Homo sapiens: one gene and its partners. The protein of the gene in region 3 purifies or fractionates together with the protein of the main gene of each other region. This does not show direct contact. Each region holds a gene or a part of one and is shown on either strand. Other genes may lie near its edges.

What was found.
Region 1: the proteins of ST8SIA4 (region 3) and GALNT18 purify together in Homo sapiens (affinity purification with mass spectrometry; 2 studies listed by BioGRID and IntAct, with this or other methods). This does not show direct contact.
Region 2: the proteins of ST8SIA4 (region 3) and FREM2 purify together in Homo sapiens (affinity purification with mass spectrometry; 2 studies listed by BioGRID and IntAct, with this or other methods). This does not show direct contact.
Region 4: the proteins of ST8SIA4 (region 3) and OAF purify together in Homo sapiens (affinity purification with mass spectrometry; 2 studies listed by BioGRID and IntAct, with this or other methods). This does not show direct contact.

What each region holds. Positions count from the first base shown.
Region 1 is NC_000011.10:11,374,005-11,381,042, forward strand, and holds part of GALNT18 (polypeptide N-acetylgalactosaminyltransferase 18), read right to left. Parts: intron 5,261-7,038; coding exon 5,077-5,260; intron 3,376-5,076; coding exon 3,178-3,375; intron 1-3,177. UniProt on the Homo sapiens protein: Catalyzes the initial reaction in O-linked oligosaccharide biosynthesis, the transfer of an N-acetyl-D-galactosamine (GalNAc) residue from UDP-GalNAc to a serine or threonine residue on the protein receptor.
Region 2 is NC_000013.11:38,858,053-38,865,090, reverse strand, and holds part of FREM2 (FRAS1-related extracellular matrix protein 2 precursor), read right to left. Parts: intron 5,805-7,038; coding exon 5,501-5,804; intron 3,661-5,500; coding exon 3,529-3,660; intron 817-3,528; coding exon 485-816; intron 1-484. UniProt on the Homo sapiens protein: Extracellular matrix protein required for maintenance of the integrity of the skin epithelium and for maintenance of renal epithelia. Required for epidermal adhesion. Involved in the development of eyelids and the anterior segment of the eyeballs.
Region 3 is NC_000005.10:100,806,431-100,809,318, forward strand, and holds the end of ST8SIA4 (CMP-N-acetylneuraminate-poly-alpha-2,8-sialyltransferase isoform a precursor), read right to left. Parts: 3' UTR 503-2,888; downstream 1-502. UniProt on the Homo sapiens protein: Catalyzes the transfer of a sialic acid from a CMP-linked sialic acid donor onto a terminal alpha-2,3-, alpha-2,6-, or alpha-2,8-linked sialic acid of an N-linked glycan protein acceptor through alpha-2,8-linkages.
Region 4 is NC_000011.10:120,206,660-120,214,066, forward strand, and holds the start of OAF (out at first protein homolog precursor), read left to right. Parts: upstream 1-4,372; 5' UTR 4,373-4,620; coding exon 4,621-4,851; intron 4,852-7,407.

The DNA of each region.
Region 1 (7,038 bases), on a different chromosome or scaffold from region 3:
TTTCCCTGGGGAATGCAGATACAGGAGACTTCTGGGGCAGAGACTGACACCCTGGAGCCACTGTTTCTCTTCCTTTCAAATCACTGCATTTTATTCTAAATGGCTTCACCCTCACAGACCTGCAGGCATCCTGGGAAGCTAATCCACCACTCCTAAAGCAGACTGAGACCCTGCTGTGGTGGAGGTAACTGAACCCAGGCCTTCGAGGTAGTCTCTCTGGGAAAAATCCCCCTTCCGGATGCATGTCTCTAAGAGAAGTTCCCTAGCCTCTCTGAGCCTCCGATTCCATATCTGTAACATAGGATCTATTCTAACCTCACACGGACTAAATTAAAGCACTTGAGAGCCTCTGGGACATAACTGGCACTCAAAAGGCCATTTAAAAAGGTAAAAAGATGCAATTGTGCACTAAGTCTAGAAGATCCTCTCTTTAAATACGTGATGATTCAGAAACATCAGGCTGGCAGAGTGGGGCCTTGGCATTTGCCTCTGCATTCCTAGTGTTGGACAGGGCAGGGCACGCTGGAAAAATGCTTTCAGGACACACAGGAAGGGACCTTCCTCAAACTGACAGTTCAAGCCAGGTAATGAACAGAATCTGAAACAGTTACTCTGAGATGAGCACAGGCCACCTCAGTGGTTTATTATTAACCGGCTAGGGTATTAAGTGGATTCTATCAGCATGAAAGAGTTATCGATTTACACCTTGCCTCATTCCTGAAAGGATTAGAAATAGCTTATGAGAAAATTTAAAATACATAGAGAACCATAAATAGATAAATGTCTGGACAGACCTAAAGATTGCAACAAATTGGAATGCATGTGCAGAACCAAGGTCCTCTCTCAATTGTTCTTAAAGCAGACATGAAAGCTTGCCTTTGAGTTTCCTGTTGGTCAAAGTGGAAATGAACACACATGGTCTTAGAAACAAAATGTACAGTTCTCATGTGAAAATGTCATATTAATTGATTCCCTGGGGATAGCAAGTCTTTCTTTGACTGGCAGTCAGTTTGAAAGAAATTTCTCACGTGGATTTTCTTAATGGGGTCACCTGGCGACTTAGGGAACAGCGATCACAAAGACATCCCTTTAGAATACACCAGAAGATATTGCTGGGCTCTTTTTATGACTTACACCATGTGTGGGCAAAGCACTCAAGTATAGCTTGAAAGAAAAGGGAGCTCGGATGGGCAAGATACATTTGTATAAATCACAGCTTTCTGTGGAGCTGTCTTCATCTGGGAATAAAACCAGGAATGTTCTTCCAAAAATCTTCCATAGAAGTTATTTCCCTCAACCAAGTTTTTGATAAAAATTGGGTGATAGAAAATTTGAGGTTGAGATGACATTGTCTGGCAAGGACCTGGAATGCAGGCTTGCTGATTGAGACTGGACCAGTACAGTTAGAGATGAGCAGAACAGAAACAGTTACTGTCAATGCAGTCTTCTGCAGGAATGCTCATTGCATGGGGGCATATTTCCTTCCAACAGCATTCATCAGGCCTGGGAGCAGAAAACAGCTACACCAGTTCTGAGCTCAACAGTGGACAATAAGAGGGGTGAAAACTAGCCACTGAGTCTAGCTTCTCTGGGTGGATCCTGGCTCTACCGCCCAGAGCCTTTGGCAGGGCCATTCACCTCTCTCAGTCTTGCTCTCCTCCTCTTGTAAAACAGGGATGAGACATGAGCGGTCAACAGGTTGCGATGATGATCAAATGAGCCAATGCGTGTAAAAGACCCTTGTACATAGCAGACTGTCAGCAAATGTTTAACAACACAAAATTGTGGCAGGGGCCGAGCAGAGTAGGTATCAGGTAACTTCAGGAAAGTTAGGTGGTTTTATCCCGTTTTAAGTATGAGTATACATTTTTTCTTCTGGCAAGGAAAAATGTGATCTTAAGTAATAATCCCTGACTTTCAATTAAATTTTTCATACCCTTTCTCCCTAATATAATATAAAACAACATGAGCTTCTAATCTCTTGCACTCCAAAAACTGTACCCTAGGCCACCTTCTGGTGCCTTCTGTTTTATAACGGGCAGGACTTCGCAGGGAACATAAAGACACCCACCGTATCATCAATATAGACAGAAATAGGCCAGGCGCAGTGGCTCATGCCTGTAATCCCAGCACTTTGGGAGGCCGAGGCGGGTAGATCACGAGGTCAGGAGTTCAAGACCAGCCTGGCCAACATGATGAAACCCTGTCCCTAGTAAAAAATACAAAAATCAGCCAGGTGCAGTGGCAGGTGCCTGTTATCCCACCTACTTGGGAGGCTGAGGCAGGAGAATCACTTGAACCCAGGGGCCAGAGGTTTCATTGAGCCGAGATCACGCCATTGCCCTCCAGCCTGGGTGACAGAGTGAGACTCCGTCTCAAAAACAAAAACAAACACAGACAGAAATAAAAACTAGTGGGGACAGCTTTTGGAGGAGTCCTGAACCTTAAAAGCCGAGACCACACAAGGGAGTCATTCATGAGTCTAGGAAGATGGCAGCAAAGGCAGGAAAGAACTTGGGACCTTTGAAATGCAGTATGAAGTCACTTTTGTCTGAGTCTTACAGAATAACACTCAAATATCATCAAGGTATACACTGTCCTGTGGGGTCCGATCTTGCCTCTCAGCCCCTCCACCCCTACTGCCGGGGGCTGCTGGCTCACTTCCCACTTCTAGTGACTTTGAACCTTCTCTGTGTTCATGAACTTTGCATATGGGTGTCCATTCCCCAACCTAGCCATCTTCTACTCGCCTTCAAAAACAAGTGAAAATGCTGCCCTCTGAAAAGCATTTCCCCGCTTTCAATGCAGTTTCTGCCTGCATGGTAGAATAATGTTCCTATTCCAATGATTTTGTCTGTCTTCACTAGACTCCAGGCTTTTGGCAGTGGGAACCAAATCTTCATCACTCCGGATCCCCAACCTGGAGCACAGTGGTTGGCGCCCAGCAGACGTCTCACAGTGATGTGTGAAAATGGGTCACTTTGAGGCTGTGAATGGATTCTGAGATCTTCAGAGCCTGTGGCAGTGACTGAAGATCAGACTGCAGTTCCTTTCGACCCTGCCCACCCCTGTCATCCCCACGATGGGGCTCAAGTTGGAGAATAAGCATTGGACCAGTAGGCGGTCCCTAGCCTGGAGGTCAAAGCGGAGAGACCCACAGGTAAAGGTTTGCTTTACCTGATTGGCGCTGTGGAGTTCTCCAGCTTCCACCAGGCCTTGGGGGGATTTAGGTAGCGGCACCACAGCTCCCAGTCAAAGCCCTGGGCAGCCAGCGGGTACTCTTCTATCTCAAAGTTGTCATATTTGATGTTATCAAAGGATGGCGAGATGATCCGCTTCCGGTTCTCCTTGATGCGGGTGAGTACAGGTTCAGCCCTGGGCAGAGAGGAGACAGCCAGAGAGGGTAACCATTTCCAAGGTGGAAAAATCCAGAGTAGCATCTCCTGAAGGTCCTTCCCCAGCAGAAAGAGGAAGGAAGGCCTGCCCATCTCCTCTGATGGAGAGGTGCACTGCCTTCTGGGAAGGAGCTCCTATTCAACTTCCCGCTCCCTGAGGATTGCCGGAATGGCAAGAGGCTGCACCACTCCATTGGCATATCCAGAGCTGAGCTGAGAGATTCTTATTCCAGCCAACCTTGTGCCTGCTCGCTTTCCCTTTCTCCATTAGAAAAAAAAAAAATCAAGACTCAAAAAAGAAGAAAAAGAAGAAAGAAACAGATCTGAGGCTCCAGAAAAAGCTTTCACCTTGGGCTTTGATTTTGCTAAAATTCTATGTGTCAACCTGGAGGAAAAGACAGATGAGGATGGCAGAGACTAGGAGCTGAGAACAAACCTACATCCACCAGCCATGCGATGTTGCCCTGGAATGCCAGCTGTGCCACATCCACCCCCCAAAGCGTTTCCCAACCACCCAAGGAGGGGTGGGGCATTTGGGCTTTCCCAGGGAGCTGGGAGACCCTTGAAGGCACCAGGCGAGTAAAGTGTTTGCAGGCAGGAATAAGCTTCTCATTAATAATACATTTGGTGCATAATTGTTTATTCAAATCAGCTTGAAATAGTAAGTGTCCCTCTCCTATCCTGGCCATAAATCCAAAGAAAATGCTGTTTAAATAGTCACAAGTGGCAAGCAGGGACTTCAACTATAAAAAATGGCTGTGTTGCAGCCTTCATTTGGGCCTGTTATGGCAGCATCCAGGCCAGGCTGTGTGCACGCCCTGCTGCTCCTTCCTGCTGAAGTGCCCTTGTCTCCCACTCCCCGGGGGCACAGGTTGGCACTGTGGAGTCTGGGGAGGAGAGCAGACCCCAGTGACAACAGGCATATTGATAAAAGGGTGGCCACCTACTTGCCCCAGCTACTTATGGTCATTGCCAGAGCCTGTGTCTCCCAGGCCCAGGCAAAGTTACACACAGCAGGTGGCCCTGTGCCCTCCAGCCCTGCAGGGAGGTCTGCATCCGCCACTCTATTCCTGGCTGGCTGCAGCCACTTGGGCCTTCTGTCTGGTCCCTTTCCCCCCAGCATCTGAGCAGCTCTGACCAGAGAAAGAAAGATGTTCTTAGACAGTTTCACCATAGGGAGAATCTGAGATTACGTGCTACCTCCAATCTGGCAGTGGGAAAGCCCAGGGCACCTGTGACAACATGGGGCAAGCTTCCCCCACCTTTGCCCACTTGCTGTTGGCCCTGGCTGTGAGGCTGGGCTTCTGCCTCACGTCTGGCCCAGCTCTCCTTTCCTAGGTGTGGGAACCCTGTCCTTAGCGGGACACTCTCTGCTTTGCCCTTGGCATGTACCCTTCTCCCTGATGACCCTGCCAGCCAGAGTCACATGTGATGTCACCATGCATATTAGGCACCGTGTGCTGACCTGTTGACCCCTGGCTACCCCCTCCCCTCTACCACACCTCGAACCCTAAAGGTCCAGCCTTGTTGCCTGGCTCACTCACACACCTACATCTCACCTATTCCCAGAATTACCTCTTTTCCCTTAGGCTATGACCAAGATCCTAGCATGCTTTGCACTATTGGAGCTGAAGCCCCAGATCCCACTGGGACTCCTCCTCCTCTCCCAAGGGGCACTTACCAGCCCACATTGAACTCCACGTGGGCATCAAAGAGTGCCACCACAGGGGCAGTGGCCGCCCTCCAGCCACTGACCCTGGAGCGGATGAGGCCTTCCTGCTTGCTGTGACGCACGACTTTGATGAAGCCTGGCTTCTGGCTGTTCACCTTGTCCACATATTCGGTCAGCTTCTCCTTCAGTTCCTCTGTCAGGGAGAAAATGCAGCCTTAGCATGGGAGGGAGGTCAGGAGGCAGAGGGGGCAATCACAACAGTCACTCTTTTAGTGATGACCCCCAGAGAAAGGCTGGGGGACCCATTCCCCTCCCTGGGTCTTCTTCAGTGGTCCCCACAGTGGCCAGCACAGGTCAGTTTTGAAGGGAAAAATAGAGGGGAATATTTCCTGTATTTTCAGTATTTTCTGAGGTCCAGCAATGCACAGGGTCATATACACCACAAACAAGGTCTATTTAATCTTCACAACAAGCCAATAGGAAAATGGTAGCTCAAAAGATTTTATCAAGTTCTCCAGCATCATGCAGCTTGTGAGTGGCACAGTCCACTTTCAAACCAGGCCTAGTGACCTGAAAAGCCATCATCAGCACGGCTACCTCCTTCCTATTGGTCTCCATCTCCATCGGTGCTCCTATAACCCCCAGGGGAAGATCCCTCTGCCAAGACCCCAGCCCAGGATCCGCTCTCTGCCTGGATCTCCATCTTTCCAGGAAGTGGATGGCCAGGAGCTGTGCCCATGTGAGTAGCTGGTGTTGGTTTGCTGCCTGTGGTCCTGGACCTGGCTAAGCATTTGATGCCTCTGCTTCTTCATAACTGTAAATGGGGCCTGCAGCAACAGAAACAGGCCTCAGCAGCAGCCCCCTGAACCCTCAGCAAGAGAGGGCACAGCCACTGCATTCATTACCTTTTTCATAGCAGCTAAGGCAAGAGCCCATGACAGCCCTCACAGTTGGTTGGACAGGATTCTAAAGTTCCTTTTGAACCAAGCATCCATCCCAAGGTGTGAATTCCCTCTGTCTGCCCTGATGAGTGATCATGCAGCCCCTGCAGTAAAAGGGAAATCCATGCAATCCATTCCTTAGAGGGCCTCTTCAACTATTAGATGTTCTTCCTTCTTCTGACCTCCAAATGCCAGGGTCCCTCAATCTTACATTCATGAGTCCAATGGGACCTATTTTGGAGCCATAGAAGACAGATCAAGTCCCACTTTCCACATAACAACTGAAGCCCATTCTTAAGTCCTTGCTAAGGACTTCTCTAGGTCAAATATCTTCAGTTCTTCCTTGTGTTTCCGCATATTTCATGATTTCAAATTCTCTAATCATGTTGAACTTCCCTCTAATTAAGTTAGTTTTTCTTGAACCCTTTCATATTATGCAGAAGTTGACCTAATACTTCTAAAGTAAACTGGGCTATACAGAATAGAAGAAATAAATCACCTCCCTTAATCTAGAATCTATGCTCCTATTAATATAATCTAAAGTCACAACAACTTTGATTGCTTTTGTCTCAAATTAAGCTTACTGCTAACATATACTTACAAATTATTTTTACATGGTGCTACTAAGTCAGGCCTCCTCCATCCCATCTCTGTGGATGCGGGTGCATGTGCAGGTGCTTGTGTGTGTGTGCACACATGGGTGCCTGCTCTGAGTCAAAACAAAGAATCTTATGTTTACTTTTATTTAATCAGCCTTTCTAAAGATTTCCACTATTTCTTTGGAGGTCAAAGTGTTTTTGTCCCCTGATTTCATTACCCAATGTCTTTCTTATCCAGCCCTTCTAGGTTTCCAGCTTCTGCAAAAGTGATGAGCATATGGCCTTTCTTGTCATTCAAGTGATCCTTTTAAACAGTGTGACCCCTGTCCTAAGCTAGGGCTGGTGGGGGCTGTCAGTGTCCTCATTCCAGCCTGGAGAAAACTCGACTGACTTCTGGGCTGCCACTGACATGCTGTATATCTCACTGCAGT
Region 2 (7,038 bases), on a different chromosome or scaffold from region 3:
GAGGCTAAAAGCAGAGAAAGTTTTGTAAAATGTAGGGGAAGAAGAAAGTCAGAAAAGAGGGAGAAAAATTAGGCTGACTCCCAGGATTGTAAAACCTCACTTTAGGTGGCTCATGATACAACATCACAGGCATCTACACATAAACACAAAAACAACATAGTGTATACTTTGAAGAGAAGTCAGTATTTGGATTTTTATAATATCAGAGTAGATTTTGAGCTTAAGGCAATAATTATACAGCATCCTTTTCACATAGATATAATGTTTCTAGCCCATTGTCAAAAACTACGTATATTCTGGCCCATTGTTAAGAAATAGACACGGATTTTCACACCATCCATGCCAGTTGTCTGGTCCCTTGCTGTCAATAATTACCTACAACACCAAGATGGAAAACTGGAGTTGGGACTTAGTACAAATCTATGTGACAAAACAAACCAATTGGTTTATCCAGTGACCAAACTCAGATGTTATAAATCTGTACCTGTCCATCTGTTCCAATGGTGCCACCACAGTCAGCAAGGAGTTCTGACATGTCATAGTAGCTAACGAACTCCCATAAACAGGCCTCTAGGTTCAGGTTCCGGTAGAAGCGCAAGGTAGTGGAACCTCTGATGGACAAGCTGTACTGGTAAGGATATGTCTCTCCAATTATTTCTGGATTTTTGGTAGCATCAGTCAAGAAACCATAATGAGTCTTCACTTCAGTATAATCCAGGAGGTTGGAGCACTTGTGGTTTCCAACTCTTGTGCCATCAGGGCTGAGGGTGAGCTCAAAGTTGGAAAGCTCTCTAGTGGAGATCACGGGGAGCATGCCTATGATAAATCGAAATCATTGTTAACAGTCTTTCAAGTAGCCAAGAATTTTGAACACTTTAAAACTTCTTTATCTCTTAAGAAAACAAGTGTCATAAAATGCCATACAGCAGTGGTGTATGGCATACAGATCAAAGTGGTGTCCAGGCCCGGTGACGTGGCTCATGCCTGTAATCCCGGCACTTTGGGAGGTCTAGGTGGGTGGATCATCTGAGGTCAGGAGTTCAAGACCAGCCTGGCCAACATGATGAAACCCTGTCTCTACCAAAATTACAATAGCTGGGCATGGTGGCGGGTGCCTGTAATCCCAGCTACTTGGGAGGCTGAGGCAGGAGAATTGCTTGAACCCGGAAGGCAGAGGTTGCAGTGAGCTGAGATCGCACCACTGCACTCCAGCCTGGACATCAAAGGTGAAACTCCACCTCAAAAAAAACCCCTACAAAAAACAAAAAAATAAAAAAGTGGTATACTAAGAACCCTGGGGTTCCCCAGGAAAATTTCAAGAGATCCATGACTTAATCGCTATTTTCACAATGATAGTAAGTTATTATTTGACTTTGCCACCCATATTCTCTCACAAATGCAGTTTTTCAGAGACTACAAGATATGATAAATTGCAACAGATTGAATGCAGAAGCAGAGAATCCAGTTATCTTCTATTAAGTCAGACATTAATGATATCTTCAAGAATATAAAAGTGCCACTCATCATTTTTTTGTTTTATAACATAGTTTTTTAAAGGATGTATTTCATGTTAATATGTAATGTATTTCTTTTTGTAATTTTTAAATAAGTGAATAAATAACAATTCCTCAGTTTTAATTTAAAATCCAATAAATATTTATAGATATCACCCACATAAACAAAATCTCTTTGAGATCTTCAATAATTTCTAAGATGTCCTGGATCATAAATGTTGAAAACTGGCCATGCGTGGTGGCTCACATCTGTAATCCCAGCACTTTGGGAGGCCAAGGCAGGTGGATCACTTGAGGTCAGGAGTTTGAGACCAGCCTGACCAACATGGCGAAACCCCGTCTCTACTAAAAATGCAAAAATTAGCCAGGCATGGTGATGCACGCCTGTAATTCCAGCTACTTAGGAGGCTGAGGCATGAGAATCGCTTGAACCCGGGAGGTGGAGGTTGCAGTGAGCTGAGATCGCGCTACTGCACTCCAGCCTGGGTAACAGAGTGAGACTCTGCCTCAAAAAAAAAATTTTTATAAAGTTGAAAACTACCACCATTAAAAAGTACAGGCTAAGGACTGAAAATTTGTTCCATAAAGGGTCAAATAGTAAATATTTTAGCATTGTGGTCCCTGAGGTCTCTGTTGACTGTTCAATGCTGCCATCAGAGTGAAAGCCACTACTATGTGAAAGAAGAAACAGAACTGTGTGCAACAAAACTTTATCATGGGCAATGGATTTGAATTCCATACCATCTTTATGTCTCAAAAGTAGACTTCTTTTTTTTTCCCCAAACATTTAAAAATATAAAACCTATTCCTAGCTTGCAGACCATATGAAAACAGGCAGCAGACTGTATTTGGCCACAGGACATAGTGTGTTGAGCCCTGGCATAAGCAATACAGCAAAAGACTATGAACCAGTTCTTCTCTTTGAGCCTTTCACACCTCTTCCTCTCAGATTCACTCAGAGCAAAACTCCGGCCCCACAGAAGAAGTGGTCAGCCTCAACTACACTTCTGGCAGAACTGTGGCTATTGAACATTGAACAGTGCATTCAGAAAACGCAAAGCCAAGCCCTAGGAGTGGCAGAAGAGACCACTCTTTCTTTTAGGAAATAACTCTTATAGGTCTGTGTTTCCCTGATGGGTCCCTTCTCAGCCCTTTGCAGCTCAAGTCACACCTCCACATGGACCTACAGACTGGGTGGTTCAGGGACCAACATTATGCTATAAAGGAAGGAATGCAGATTCCTGACCACCTGCCCTTCCAATCCCCAGAAAAATCTCAGGTTGTAATAGGAAGACATAGCAGATGTTCTTGTTCTGGGGGAGGTAGATTCTACGTTGCAGCTCCTAATCGTATTTCCTCTCCCTTAGCTACATAAAATATAACTAACATATCAAGTAATTTTATTAACAATTTGCTATAAGTATAAAGTGATTTGAGTGGAAAATAACTTGAAAATGCCTTCCGCACATGGTAAAATATTCATAAAGTATGATAAAGTTATTGATGCACACATTCTGGTCATGGCTACCTAGCCAGAGAAAATAGACACAATATTTAATACCTGTTAGTTTCATTTTTTATTTTATTTAAATATCTTGGAAATGTCTTACAGTTACATGATAAATATTGAGAGAGACATAAAACTCCAGCTATAAAACTGCAACACATGTTGAAGGTAGGTACTAAGATATCAAATACTTTACTGTAACTTCAAGTTTACGATTGAAGATGCATTTGTACTCTTTCATAAAAGCTAGACTAGGTACCAAAGTTTTGTTTTATCGTGTCTGGATATGTATTACATCTACCTAATTTTAACGAATGCTTACACTGCCATAGTTATAAAAACAGGGTAGAACAAAGCTAAAACAGTTGAAAGAAGTGGAAGGACTTGAAGCTCAAGTTGCAAATTGAACGTTTATTTAAGCTTGGTTATTTAGAAGATGAAGGAAAATACAACAGGTAATGAGGAGTCCAAAACAATTCCATGGATTTGCTTACCCAAGTCACCTACCATCTATGTGTGGCATTGTGACAGTGAGCTTGATAAGGTTTGTGTAGTCTGCATCCTCAGGGCCTGTGTAGCGCAATTTAGCTGAGAACGGCTCTGCTCCAACAACCCCAGGTACACGGGGCTGACAAAGACCTTGAAAAAAAAAAAGACCATATTTATGCGAAAAGAAGGTAATCAATAATACCTAAAGAATGTTTTAGAAAATAGGAGCTATTATTTTTCTGTGTACTTTCAACTTCTCTGTGGAGTAGGGCATGGCTAAGAGTGTACATCACGTGATAAGGAATTAGAAGTCCACAGGGTGAGAAGTAATCACAGCAGACAGTTAGTGGCCACTTGACAATTTATGGATTGTTCAAACTTTGAGAAAAAATTTGTTACCATTCAATGTAACTTAATGTGTGCTGGTTATTCTAGGTCATGGTCATATTCACAAAATCATTTAAATATAAAGTATGAACAGATACAGTAAAAATGACTGAAAGTCAGTAGGATAAAAGTAAGTGTAGTTAAACCAAGTAAATGTTATTTTTACTCTAGAATAATATACTTATCATTAGTTATGTTTACATTACTTATAAGTGAATAAAACTAAAACTGTGCTCATTTTAGGAACAAAAACTAAAGTCTCCTTAAAAATCAGAGAGCAAAATATGTACAGTAGAGTTTTCTCTATAGATGTAATTTTTTACAGTATGTGTATTATACATTATAATCCATTTTATATTCATCTCTTTCTGTCTCATATCTCCCAGTGACCTTCAAGAATTTGGACATGAAACTCTTTCTCCAGTATTTCCTTTAGGAAAATAGTGGGGTTTCTATTTGAACATCATGAAAGGAACCAAGACGCTGAATTATAATTTCAGGAGAACTTGGAAAGATACAATTACTTATCTATTTGTATAAAACAGAGAAAATAGACAAATATGTATTAGAATAGCAAGGAAATCAGAGTCAGGCCCCAGCATAGAGGCTGTCTGATTTATTAAAAGAGAGAATCATTTTAAGGCATTATTTAAATATTTGATCCTGAATATATAGTAGTCACAGGTGGGACATATGACCTCTATGCAGTAAATTTACTTTTGAATGCGGTGTGCAAATAGATGATTTAGAAATAGAATCAAATATATACAACCGTTTTTAAGAAAAATCTCATTAAAAATTATTCTGCAGAGTGAAGGATTTATTTATACAGTGGATTTCCTGTCTTTCCAATGTTGTCCCCAGCCACATCCTATTCTCCATCCCCAATGTGTCTTTGCTCCAGCCTTAAATACAGTCTCTCTTGTAATACCAAGGTGTTAATTTGCACGTACCCCTCTATCTGGACTGCCCTTCCCCTCCCGTCCCCAGCAAAATCCTACTCACCCAACAACCAGCTGGTTTCCTTGCATGGCATGAGCTCTGTTCAGATCTGAGCCTTGCATACCATTTTGCCTTGTCTCCTGGTTTTTCCTCCTCTCCCTCTCAGAAGCTTCCCCATTTCTCTGCTTGCCATTCCCACAATATCCCGCATTCTTTCTTGCTTTTATGAGTTGTTGCTCATGCTTGTTTTCCTCTACTCTTTTCAGATTCAGCTTGAGCCTCCCCTCTTTGATAAGCCTTTCCTGACCCACTCAGGGTAAAACTAATCACTTCTACCTGTGCATTCCTGTGCCCTGTCTAGACTAAAATGTGTCTGCATCTTCAACTGGACCAAGAATTCCTCAAAAGCAGGGATCCTGTCTTCTTTATTTTATTGCCAGCACAAAGCATTGTGTCTGGCATATAATAGATACTTAAAGGTAGAATGAATAAATATTTTGTTTTCTAATACATAATTTTGTAAAAATAGATTTTAATTTTTCACTACTTACAAAATATATGGAATATGTGGGACATTGGAAGTATTAATAACCAGAAAGTAGACATTTGTAATATTGCACAGTATTCCAGTGATCTTCAGGGGAAAATGGCAATGACTGACCTTCTTCTCTGCTGATGGTTACAATAGGGCTCATGAGCTCCAGGCCTTCATCCCCATTGGTGTTCACAGCACGAGCTGCGCACTGTACCCGGGAGCCAGGCTGAAAGTATATGGAGTCCAGTGTGACCATCTTGGATGACGTAAAAAAGGTGTCGAAGTCCACTTCTCTCATAGGGCTGGTCACACCGTCAGGGCCCGCAGGTGCACTAATCAGCCACCGGTACCGCGTCAAAGTGTCATTGATGTTCTCACTTGCACAGATAGAGCCTGTTTTATCGTAGTCTGAATATTTGGGGTTGCAAGCCTACGGAAAACAAATGACTGTGTTAGGAACAGAGTGTAGAACAGGTGGAACGCATTCTTCTCCCGTTCTCTGCCATCGAGTTTTCACTGCTGCTTTCCCCAATTTCCACATGCTGTTTATACAGCTTCCGAATTTTGATCCCCAGGCATGATAACATTTATAAACATAATCTTGCATTTCAAACAGCTTATTGGATGTTTCTATTTCTAACTTAATATGTGTAAAATTGTTATTTATACCATAATCTCTTGAATCATCAGATTTGCCAGTTATCCTTATTCTCTCTTTTTTCCTCCCCCGCTTCCTGTCGCTCATCTTACCCCCCTTATCCAGTAAGTCATGAACTCGGCTGATTCTTCTTTAACAGTATTGCTTAAGTTGATGCCTTCCTTTCCATTTCCAGCAGCACTTCTCTGTCTAATTCAGCATCTTTTCTTCCAGTCCACTGACACACGACTGCCCTGTTAACCTGCCAGTTTAACCCCTCTGATCATTCTTCCATGTGAGAACTCTTCGCTACCCAACAAATGAAGTCCAAATTTCTTAATATGACATTTAAAACTCCCTATACTTTGACGCCAAATTATCTCTGCCTTGTTGACTCAATAAACATGTATTGTATAAGTGATTTTAGAAGTGCTGTTGTAATATAAACATAAGTAAGTCATAATTTTAGCTCACAAGGAGCTTAAACTTAGAGTCAAGAAAAGGCAAATTTTGAAAGTAGTGATAATTTGCTATTTCTTATGCTATTTTTTTCTAGCTGTAGCTCACGTTGCAGTCCCTTCTTCCTAGAATGACCTTCCCTTATCAGACTTGCATCCTAAAGAGTCAAAATTCCACCTGACCATCCCAAACCTCCCCTCATATATGGAGCTGCAGCTCTGACTTCTAATTTGTATCATTTTCATGATAGTGGTTATATCTTGCCTTATATTAGAGTTACCAATTCCTATATTCTTTTCTTCATCTCTAAATATCTTGAATGCAGACTTCATATCTTATTTATTTTTCTATTGGTGACAGACTGAGATAACACACTATGTACACATCAGTTAATGAACCTTTGTTCGGTGAAGAAAGAAAAATGGGAGCTTTATTTGATTAGTGTTATATATGCAAAGCTCAAGGCTTAAACCATGTAGTATTTTTCTACTTTCATTTCTTCATAACAAAGCCAATGCTATATTGATTATAATTATTTGAAATAATTATCTTACAATTTTCCTCAATT
Region 3 (2,888 bases):
AAATTGCTTCAGGCATCAAAACTCGTATTACAATCCTGAAAGCTCTTCCATAACATCAAAAATGGAGTTCCACATGATGAGATCTGATTATACCCCCCAAAGTAGCTAAGAATAACCTGTTGTATATGAATCTTTGAAAAAAAGGTAATTATGCAAATATAAATAACATCTATATGTATTAGTTATTGTCAGTGCTTCATTGGTGGTCTCCAGTAAATGTTTCAAAATTGCAGAATGCTACAGTTAAACATTTCTGCAGAAATCAATACAGAGTCTGAAAACAGACTTGCAAGTTATAGAAAGCCATGGAAGAAGATTTAAGCGTGTAGTTTTTCAGAATCATCTCTGGAAGGCAAATCACAAACAGTATTAAGTGGATCAAATAGCAGTCAAAATACTAAATCAAAAATCTGCCATAGAATGTGCAGTGTGTATGAAGTCATTGTAGCTAAAACAACCCACTAACATTAGTCAGTGGGAGTATAAAATGGATATAAATGACTGTCACTTGTGAAATACTTTATTCCCTCAACCGCAAACAGAATGTGCTACACAAAATATCGTTAAGGATTTCCTAATATTCATGGGGTTTTTGACATTGTTCATATTCCCATGTATACACTTAAAAATAAATGGTTTGCCTAATTGCCAACCACTAGGGCTAAGGGGAGTGGAAAAGCAAAGCACAAGCCAAAGCTTGTTAAAAATGATCACCTAACATTGACATACAAAGTATAACCAAGGGCTTGGATATATGAGATAAGAGAAACAGTGAAAAAAAGGGATTAATTTATTTTACAATTTTACAAATGATAAAACAATAATACCCGGTTGCTATACACAAACAATAAGAAAACAGTGTTGAACAGAATGAACTTGAACTTGACAGAATAAACCTCATCTTTCAGTTCCACAAATTCTATAAGAAATACTCAGTAGCAATTATTCTGTGCAGCAATGCTATCTCTGTAAACTCTTTTTTTTTCCTGCTATTTACATTTGAAACACTTGTGCTTTTGCCTACACAAAGAAACGGTTTTTATTAAAAGGTGCTACTTAAATGAGAAACACAAGGCCTGGAGCCACAATCTGAAAACTGTAATTCGAATACATTGCTAGCTTGAAGCCTTTACTTTTCTTCTTTATTATTAAGATTTGGACATACTAGACCCTTACTGTAACTCTACGTATGAACGACATAGAATTCAGTTATAAAGTAGATACCTCTTAAAGCACGTTAGTAACTGAAGTCTCAAAAGAACTTCTTTATTCTAAAGTGGACTTACTTATCTCCAGGGGAGTTCACAGTGCAGACCCTGAAGATGTTAGCATAACACAAATTTAGTGTATACATATTACAGACTCAGTGTGTATACAGACATATACACATATATAACATTGTATATATGCATCACACATGTCTATTTGTACTATATAGGTATATCTATAGCACATATATAATAAAATATCTATTTCTAGGTGGGCTTTATTTGGATTTTCTTTCATCAAATACAAATAATAACCCTCACTCAATTTTTAAAACATTGGTATATTGATAATGTTTGATGGGAAAACTTTCAAACTTGTAGAGATAACAACTAACTATACACAACTCTTCCCATACCCCTTCCACAATTATATATACTCCCTACAATAACCACATGAAAACAACTCTTTCATGAACCAAATATCACGTTATATGCATTATGTCTAACTGGCTCAATTAGAAATAAATTAATTTGTTCATCCTTTTTCTGTATAGTAGCTGAATAACTAATTGGTATGTACACTACCCCTAGCATTACTTAAATAAATTGCTTTTGTAAGCATATATGTAGAAATTCCCATTAGTAATTGATATACAATTCATATGATATACAATACATGAACACATTTGAATGCCCAGCACCTTCTTTCAGATAGAAAAACTTCCGCAGTAGTTTCAACAGTCCTGTGGGCTGAATCATTAGATTTGCCAAGAAAATCTATTACTTGCTCACTTTTTATTTCAGCAACTTAACATTAACTACAGCACAGGCTGAATAATAATGATGAAAATGTTTCCATGGTCTATTCATGTCAACAGCACAATAACAACCATGTTCTGTAAAGGACAAGAATATTTCACAATCAGCTGCCTGAGCATTGCCAAGTACAGGGTTAAATAGTAAAAAATAAATTAAAATATTAAAATTGTGAATATATATTTTCAAAAGAAAAAGCTCCACCTATTTCAAGTATGCTTTTATAATTTGATTTTGTCATGATCCTTTATGCTCCGCTATTGGTTAAATCTCAACTCTTTTTCTTATTCTTGCCATTAGCCTTCATTGATCTTGCTCTGTTTCCATAAAAAGGCCACAGTAGATAGTTAAAATGGGAGGGCAGATGGAAAGGTATACAACAAGGAATGAAATGGGCTTGTACAGTTTGTCTTCTTTGAACCCTAAATACCTTTAACTGAATTCATTCTTGACTATTGAAATCCCTGAGATGAACAAAAGCAATCTCAATCGACACTGAAGCCCTTTTTTTCATGCTGAACATTTTTGGAAGTGGGCAATGTATTTAGAGAACACAAAGGATATGGTGACAAAGTAATGTGAAAAAGCTAAAAAGGCACTACTCAATGCATCTATGAGATAAACATCAATGCACAGAACAATGAATGGCTGAGATATGTGTGCTGTGGCCTTAACATTGTTTAAATGTATTTACTGAAAATATACTAAAAATGGTCCGGCTGCGGTGGCTCACACCTGTAATCCCAGCACTTTGGGAGGCTGAGGTGGGTGGATAACCTGAGGTCAGGAAGTTCAAGACCAGCCTGGCCAACATGGTGAAACTTTGTCTCTACTAAAAACACAAAATTAGCCGAGTGTGGTGGT
Region 4 (7,407 bases), on a different chromosome or scaffold from region 3:
TGGATGGAACTGCATAATTGTGTGATGGCGGAAAGCTAATTTGTACTTCTGTGCTGGCAATGAAGTGTCTGGAGCTTTGCAATTGACATTGAGAAGCAGAGGGGATCCCTCACTCCATCCCTGGTTCTCCCTCAAACTCAAATCGCAAATCCTCCACTCTATCTGCAAAGGCCCAGAGACAAAGGGGCTGTAACCTAACCCAAACCAAACAGCCACTCACAGAAAGTCATGGGAAGAAAAAAATCTTTCCAGTCTTGCAAAGACAAGCACCTGGTGGTTCTCTCCCTGTCTCTCGGTAAAGGTCATTGGTTCAGTTTCCCTTTCCACCTCCTGCAGGGTCTTGTCAGCACCTGTTTTCTTGGGCACAGATTGGGAGATGGTTTGGTGTTTCTCTTCCTCCCAAATTAAGGCACACTCAGACCAAAAAGCAAAGGGAAAGTGCCTCCCGAGGTTTTGCTGCTATCCATTTCTCAGTTTCGGAGGTCTCAAGACACAGAAAACTTAGACACCTAAAGAGGATAGAGAGGAAGAAATATTTCTTTTTTATGTATTTATTTTTTTCTTTGAGACCAACTCGCTCTGTTACCCAGGCTGGAATGCAGTGGCACGATCTCAGCTCACTGCAGCCTCTGCCTCCTGGGTTCAAGCGATTCTCGTGCCTCAGTCGCCGGAGTAGCTGGGATTACAGGCGCCCACCACCACACCCGGCTAATTTTTGTATTTTAGTAGAGACGGGTTTTGCCATGTTGGCCAGGCTGGTCTCGAACTACTGACCTCAGGTGATCCACCCGCCTCGGCATCCCAAAGTGTTGGGATTACAGGTGTGAGCCACCGCGCCCAGCCAAAAAAATGTTTCTGAAAGAATATGTGTACATGCACGCGTATACATGTGGCAGGGGGTGAGAGGGAGAGACTTGTATAATCAGAGATTTAGTATGTGATACAATGGGAAAGAATAAACAGAATTAAAGGATAACAGCCACCATTTATTGGATCTGTACTATATGCCAAACATGTTGCGAAATATTTTATGCACAATGTTTCATTTAATTTTCAAAGCAACCCAGTGAGGGAGAAACGTATGCGCCCATTTTACAGTTGAAGAAACAGGCTCACTGACGCACAGCTCATGACTGGGGCCGAGCTCCAGGACTGAGATCCTGATGCCCATTTTCTGAACCACTACTGGCTACTGCTTTCCAAGGGCTAGAGATGAGAAAAAAAAGGAAATTGGTTTATGGTGTGGCAGAGGTCTTGCGATGAGACATGAAGAACTCTCTGACAATGAGGGCTGTTTGGTTGTAGTCGGAGTAATTAGGCTTGTTAGAGCTCTTCCTCTGACGGCCTTTACATTTAAGATGAATGGATGCTTCTATGCCCGGATGGTTTGAGGGAAACGCTGTCTGTTCCCAGCACGGGGCTGGCCTGTTTGAACTAGCTGACGGCTTCACTGGGGATACAGGATTGCCACACGCGAAACCGTTAGATAACAGGAGAAGATAGCGCAGGATGTGAGCCCCGAGTGGGACTGGCAGAAAGTGAGGGCTACCGACAGGCAGAGGCTACTGTGGTTCAAAGCAAGGGCTTTGTGGTCAGGCGGGCAGACTTGTGTTTGAGTCCCGGCTGGCTCTACTGCTTTTGTGACCTTGGGTATGTTGCCTAACCTCTCTAAGCTTTGGTTTCCTAGTCAGTAAAAAGAGCCTAAGAATAGAACCTACTTTGGAGGGATGCCATGAAAATTAAATAAGATGATCCATGTAAAATGCTTGGCACAGAACCTGGACATAATCAAAATACAATGGGGGAGGAGCTGCTATAATAATGACTATTGTTGGAGTCCAGAGGCCGGAGACAGTGGCACAGAACAGAGGGCTAGGTCGGTGGGGAGTCGAGAAAGTCTTCCTGGGAAACCTGAGTTTTGTCCTGGAGCTTGAAGAGGTGGTCAGGTGAAATCAATAGCAAGGCATAGAGATGTAGGTAGGCAGGGCTTATGTAATGGAGTGAGATTTCAAATGCCCTATCACTTTCAAAGAAAAATCTGGTTTGATCTGTGGTTGAAGTAGAGAAGGAAGTTGACTATGGGGAAGAGGTGGGAAAGAGATGAGGTCTTCCATCCTTGTTTCCAAACCCAAAATGTGAACAGAGACAAACCTCAGGGACCTAAACAAGAAATCTGACATCCAGGGCTTCTTTGCCCACTTCTGGGCTGTTGTGGGAGGAGAAGGGGTAAGAGCCTGGGAAATGGCTGAGGGCAGAGCTGGTGGCGGATGGGGACAGGACCTGAAACAAGGGAAGTTAGGAAATGTGGGCGAGGCCCTTAATGACTGTGTGGGCTGACTCATGTGGGAGACCTAGCTTCAAGGCCGCATGGAGATCCAGCATCCTGTCAGGCGGGAGGCCAATTTCAAGACCCTGGGCATCTCTAGTCTAAACGGTTGCCAGCTAAGAGTGGGAGTCCTTAGGGGAGCAATCCTTGTGCTAATCCAATTATTCCCTAACAGCCTGCCTTATCTCCCGGATGTGAAGATGAACTCCTTAGGAGCCAGGTTCTCCAGGAAGGATGCTGCTTGTTTCAGATGCTCTATGTTTTTGTTTTGTTTTGTTTTGTTTTGTTTTGTAGAGACGGAGTCTTCCTCTGTCACCCAGGCTGGAGTGCAGTGGCGCAATTTTGGCTCGCTGCAACTTCTGCCTCCTGGGTTCAAGCAATTCTCCTACCCCAGCCTCCCGAGTAGCTGGGATTACAGGCGCACGCCGCCACACCCAGCTAATTTCTTTTGTATTTTAGTAGAGACGGGATTTCACCTTGTTGCCCAGGTTGGTCTCGAACTCCTGAGCTCAGGCAATCCGCCCGCCTCGGCCTCCCAAAGTGCTAGGATTACAGGCATGAGCCACCGCGTCTGGCCCAGACGCTCTATGCTTAAACATCTGCCAAATACCTGCTGTCAACCACTTATGTCGAGCATCATGTGGGCCTTGTCAAAAATGCTAATCCTCAGTTCTTTTCCCTAGAATCTGATTCCATGGGTTTAGGGATTCGGGAATCTATTTTCTAACAAGCATCCAGGTGATTCTTCAGGAAAGGCAAATTTGGAAAAGGCTGACTTGGTAGTCTCTTAAATTCCCTTCAGTCCTAAATCTAGGCAGCAGAGAGCGGGTAGCGGGAAGGGCCCCTGGATGATAGCAAGAGGCCGATTCTAGCCGGACCCTGCAGTTCACATGGCCCTGTGCTGGGGAAGCCCTAGAAGGGAAGGAGGCTGCAGAGAAGGGAGTTTTCACCCATCAGTAATCAAGGTCCCAACAGAAGTGAAAATGGAAGTCAGGGAACAATTGGTTTTGAGCATCTTCGTGGGGCTTTTTCCCTTGCCTGGGACTGGCAGGACAGTGTAGGTCTGAGCAGCTTCCACGATACACACGGGGACACTTAAGCCCAAAGAATTTTTAAAACGTGCCTAAATTCCACAACTAATCAGAGGAGGCAGCAATCCAGATCTCCTGGTCTTCACCCTTCTTATTGTTGGGGTGCACCGCAGGGCACGCATGTTTCCTTGTGGCTTGTGGGAAAGCCACTGTCGTGGAGCGCCAGCGTCCCGAGTCCCTGGAAATTCTCCCAAGTGACCTGGAATCCAACATTTCCCTGGATTTTCATAGTCTATAATAGAGAGAAAGAACCGGGTCTGCGGTGGTGGGCAGGACTGAGGAAAGGCCGTGAATGCGGGAAGCACGGGAGGCAGGACTGAAAAGGAAAGAGGCACAGGGGCTCACAAAACCTGAGGGCCGCGTCCCAGTGGGTGACCTGACCCATCAAGGTCTAACACCTGGCCGTGGCAAAGCTGGGCGAGAACCCCCGATCCACCCTCCCAGTGTGGGGCAGGGAAAAGGCAGAGTGCAAAGCGAGGTCTGATTTTGCAGAAGCTTTTTAGAAATTCGCTGTCAGAGAAACTGAAAGACCAAACAAAACCCCTAAAAATCCAAGCCCGATTATTTCATCCACGTGGCACAAAAGCAAGCCAAAAAAAAAAAAGCGGGGGGGGGGGGTGGCGGTGCAGGGCGGGGGAAGAGTCACCCGTCCTGCCCCTGCTGGAAGGAAGGGATTTGCCCCGGGAGAGCAAACTTCTGACTCCGCCTGGGTCGCTGACTCCGCGCGGCCGGGCGGGAGGGAGGTCGAGGAGGCCGCTCGCACAAAGCCGCGGAGCCGCTGCCCCCTCTCCCCGCCCCCTGCCCGGCCAACGCCGAAGTGCGGAGAGCAGCCGCGGGCCCTTTAAGGGCCGCGAGGTGCGCGGTCTCTTTAAGGCGGGTCCTGGTGGTTTCTGTTTTCTGAAGGAAGTGACGGGGGGTGGGATTGAATGAAAAGTGCAAAACACAGGCTCGCAGCGCTGGAGCCCGGGGCCGCGGAGCCGGGCCGGGGCAGCGCCGTCTCCGCCTCGGGGCCGCCGGGGGCGCCCTGCTGAGCGCTACCCACGTGCGTCCGCGCCACCTCGCGGGCGACCCCGCGGCCAAGGCCCCCGGCGGAGCGGCTCCCGGGCGCCCCGAACTAGCCCCCAACTTTGGGCGAAGTTTGCCTGCGCCTCTCCCCGCCCCCACGCGGCGCGCCGGGGCCGCGGACGGCAGCGGCCCCCGGGGATGCGCCTTCCCGGGGTACCCCTGGCGCGCCCTGCGCTGCTGCTGCTGCTGCCGCTGCTCGCGCCGCTGCTGGGAACGGGTGCGCCGGCCGAGCTGCGGGTCCGCGTGCGGCTGCCGGACGGCCAGGTGACCGAGGAGAGCCTGCAGGCGGACAGCGACGCGGACAGCATCAGCCTCGAGCTGCGCAAGCCCGACGGCACCCTCGTCTCCTTCACCGCCGACTTCAAGAAGGTGAGGCGCCCTCACTCGCCGGGGTGGCACCTTCAAGCCTGAGCCCCCCGGGATCCCAGGCGCTCTCTTGCCTGCAGACGGAAAGACGGGCCCAGGAGGGAGACGCAGCTGGCCCAAGGTCACGCCGGGCTCTTCTCTACACCTCTTTGCCCACTCCCCAGGGCCCACCCCTTCATTCTCTCCAAAGAACCCCTCTGCTTCCCTTTCTCACTCCCTCCTCCAGCGCTCCCAGAGCCCCCCAGGTGCTAACCCTCCTCCAGAACTCCTACTAACGACTGGACTCCCTTCTTGGAGTCATTCCCCTGTGCTCTAGTGGGAAAGTCCTAGGCGAAGTGTTCTCGCTGTGGGCTCTCACTGTGGGTTCTCCCTGTGTGATCTAGAGCAAGCAAGCCTCTTTCCTCCTATGGGCCTGGCTTCTCACCCCTGTACAGGGCACTGAGGGGTCTGCGAGGCCTCCCAGCCCTGACATTTTGGAGTCCCTCTGTCACCTCTCCCTCTGTTTCACTTTTCTGGGGAGAGCTGGTTGCCCCTGGTCCCTCTCAAGCCGGGAGAAGCCCTGTCTCCTCTTTGGTCTGGAAGGCTGGGGCGCTTGCAGCAGGAGGATCCTGGAGAGAGACCCCAGCTGAGGCCCCCTCCCTCTGGGAGAAGTGCTGCCCTTCACTCTGCCTGGCAGAGAAGCGAGCCAACCCCCCTATTTTGGCCCAGATTAGGGTTAGGGAGTTAGAGACCAGCCCGGTGGGTGGGTGGGTGGGTGGGTGTGGGTGTGTGGGTGTGTGTCCCAGATTACGGTTTGGGAGTTAGAGACCAGCCCGCTCTTGGTGTGTGTGTGTCTGTGTTGGAGGGAATAAGAAGGGCCTTGCACCCAGGGGGCTGGGGGATTATCAGGAAATGGGCCTGGATGGTGAGTGACTAACAGTGACCCAGCAGCAGGAAAGCTGGAGGAAAAGAGGGTGGGTAAGTCTTAGGTATTCAAAAGGAGCGTTCTGTCTCCTTCCCCCAGCTAAAGAGAGGCCCTGTGAGGCTCTGTCCCTGGGGGAGTGCAGGGGTGAAGCCGATTAGATAGCTGGGGGAGCCCGGGGCCCCGGGGACCCTTGCTGAAGCTGCCTGTCTTTCCTCCCTCGTAGAGACAGGGCGCTTTAGAGGAGAGGTGGCGGAGTTTGGGAAGTCAGTTAGGGACCCAGCCAGATTGCCATAGTTAGCAGGGGTGAGGGGTTAGGCTTGACCGCTAGAGGTGGGTGGGGTTGGGGGGTGAGGCTTGACCGCTGATTGCCCCAGGGCCACGGAGTTGGCACTGACATTGGACATAAGCAGGCAGATGGGGGGTGGGGTAGTGAGCGTTCACAAATGGGAAGACTTTGTAGCCCATCCTTACTCCGCAGGCCTAAGCTAGGCACCCTGCCTCCCCACCTAAACCCTAGGAGAATTTTATCAAGTGTGTTCTGTTCCTGAAAAATCTATGTTAGTGGCTGGATCCATCAGGAATCGGGGATCTAATCTTCTGTCCAAGCCCTTTGTCCTTGAAAGTTAGCCTTAGGCCAGGCTGTGAGGCTCCCAACCCCCTGCCCACTGGATGTCATCTTGTGGCTGCACTAGAATCCTGCAGAGAGACTTCCCTGGCTGTGGCCAGGACAGTGAAAGGCAATGGGTAGGGCTGAGCTTTTATAGCCTTTAGCTACATCTGGAAGGTTTTTATTGCTGTGATCTGAAGGGAGAGGCTAAGAAGTACCCAGGTAGCTGTGATGTGCTGGCAGTAGTGGCTGATGGCGGGGGTGGGGTGCTGGGGATTGGAGTGAGGGTATGCTGGTCATCTGACTGCCCAGTTAGAAAATGCATCTGGAGATTGTGAGCACCTCATTTGAATCTCTACAGTGGTTCAGACCTCCACCCAGGTTTCTAAAGTCTGATTTTCAGGTTAGCCTCTGACCCAGAAGCTACCATTTCATACCCACCTCTGGCATCTCCAATTTCATCAGCAAGGGAGGGAATTGGGAGTGGAAGACACCGAAAGGAAACCAGCTTTCCCAAGTCCCTTTAACTCCAGGTTTCTCCATTGGCCTAGGACGGGGTGGAGTTGGAGAGTGCAGTGTGGGGGAGAATAGCCTTACCCTCACCCAGGCCACTCACTCACTGCCTGCACTGGCCACAGCAGCTTCTATGTCCAGATCCTTCTAGGGTGGGTCACCTCTCAGTTCTCAAGGCCCCATGCCTCATAGTGTTTGTCAGATTTCCATAAGAAAGTTTGGTCTAGAAGGAATGATTTTTCCTATAAGAAAAAGACTTCGGCTCGGTGTGGTGGCTCACATCTGTAATCCCAGGATTTGGGGAGGCTGAGGCAGGCTTATCGCTTGAAACCAGGAATATGAAATCTTCAGGCCAAACGAGACCCCTGTCTCTACAAAAAATTTAAAAATTAGCGGAGCACGCTGGTGTGTGCCTTGTAGTCCCAGCTATTCAAGGAGGCTGAGGCAGGAAAACCACTTGAGCCCAGGAGCTGAGGCTGCACTGAGCTGCAATTGTACTACTGCACTCCAGCCTGGGAAGTCACGCTTTTTGTGT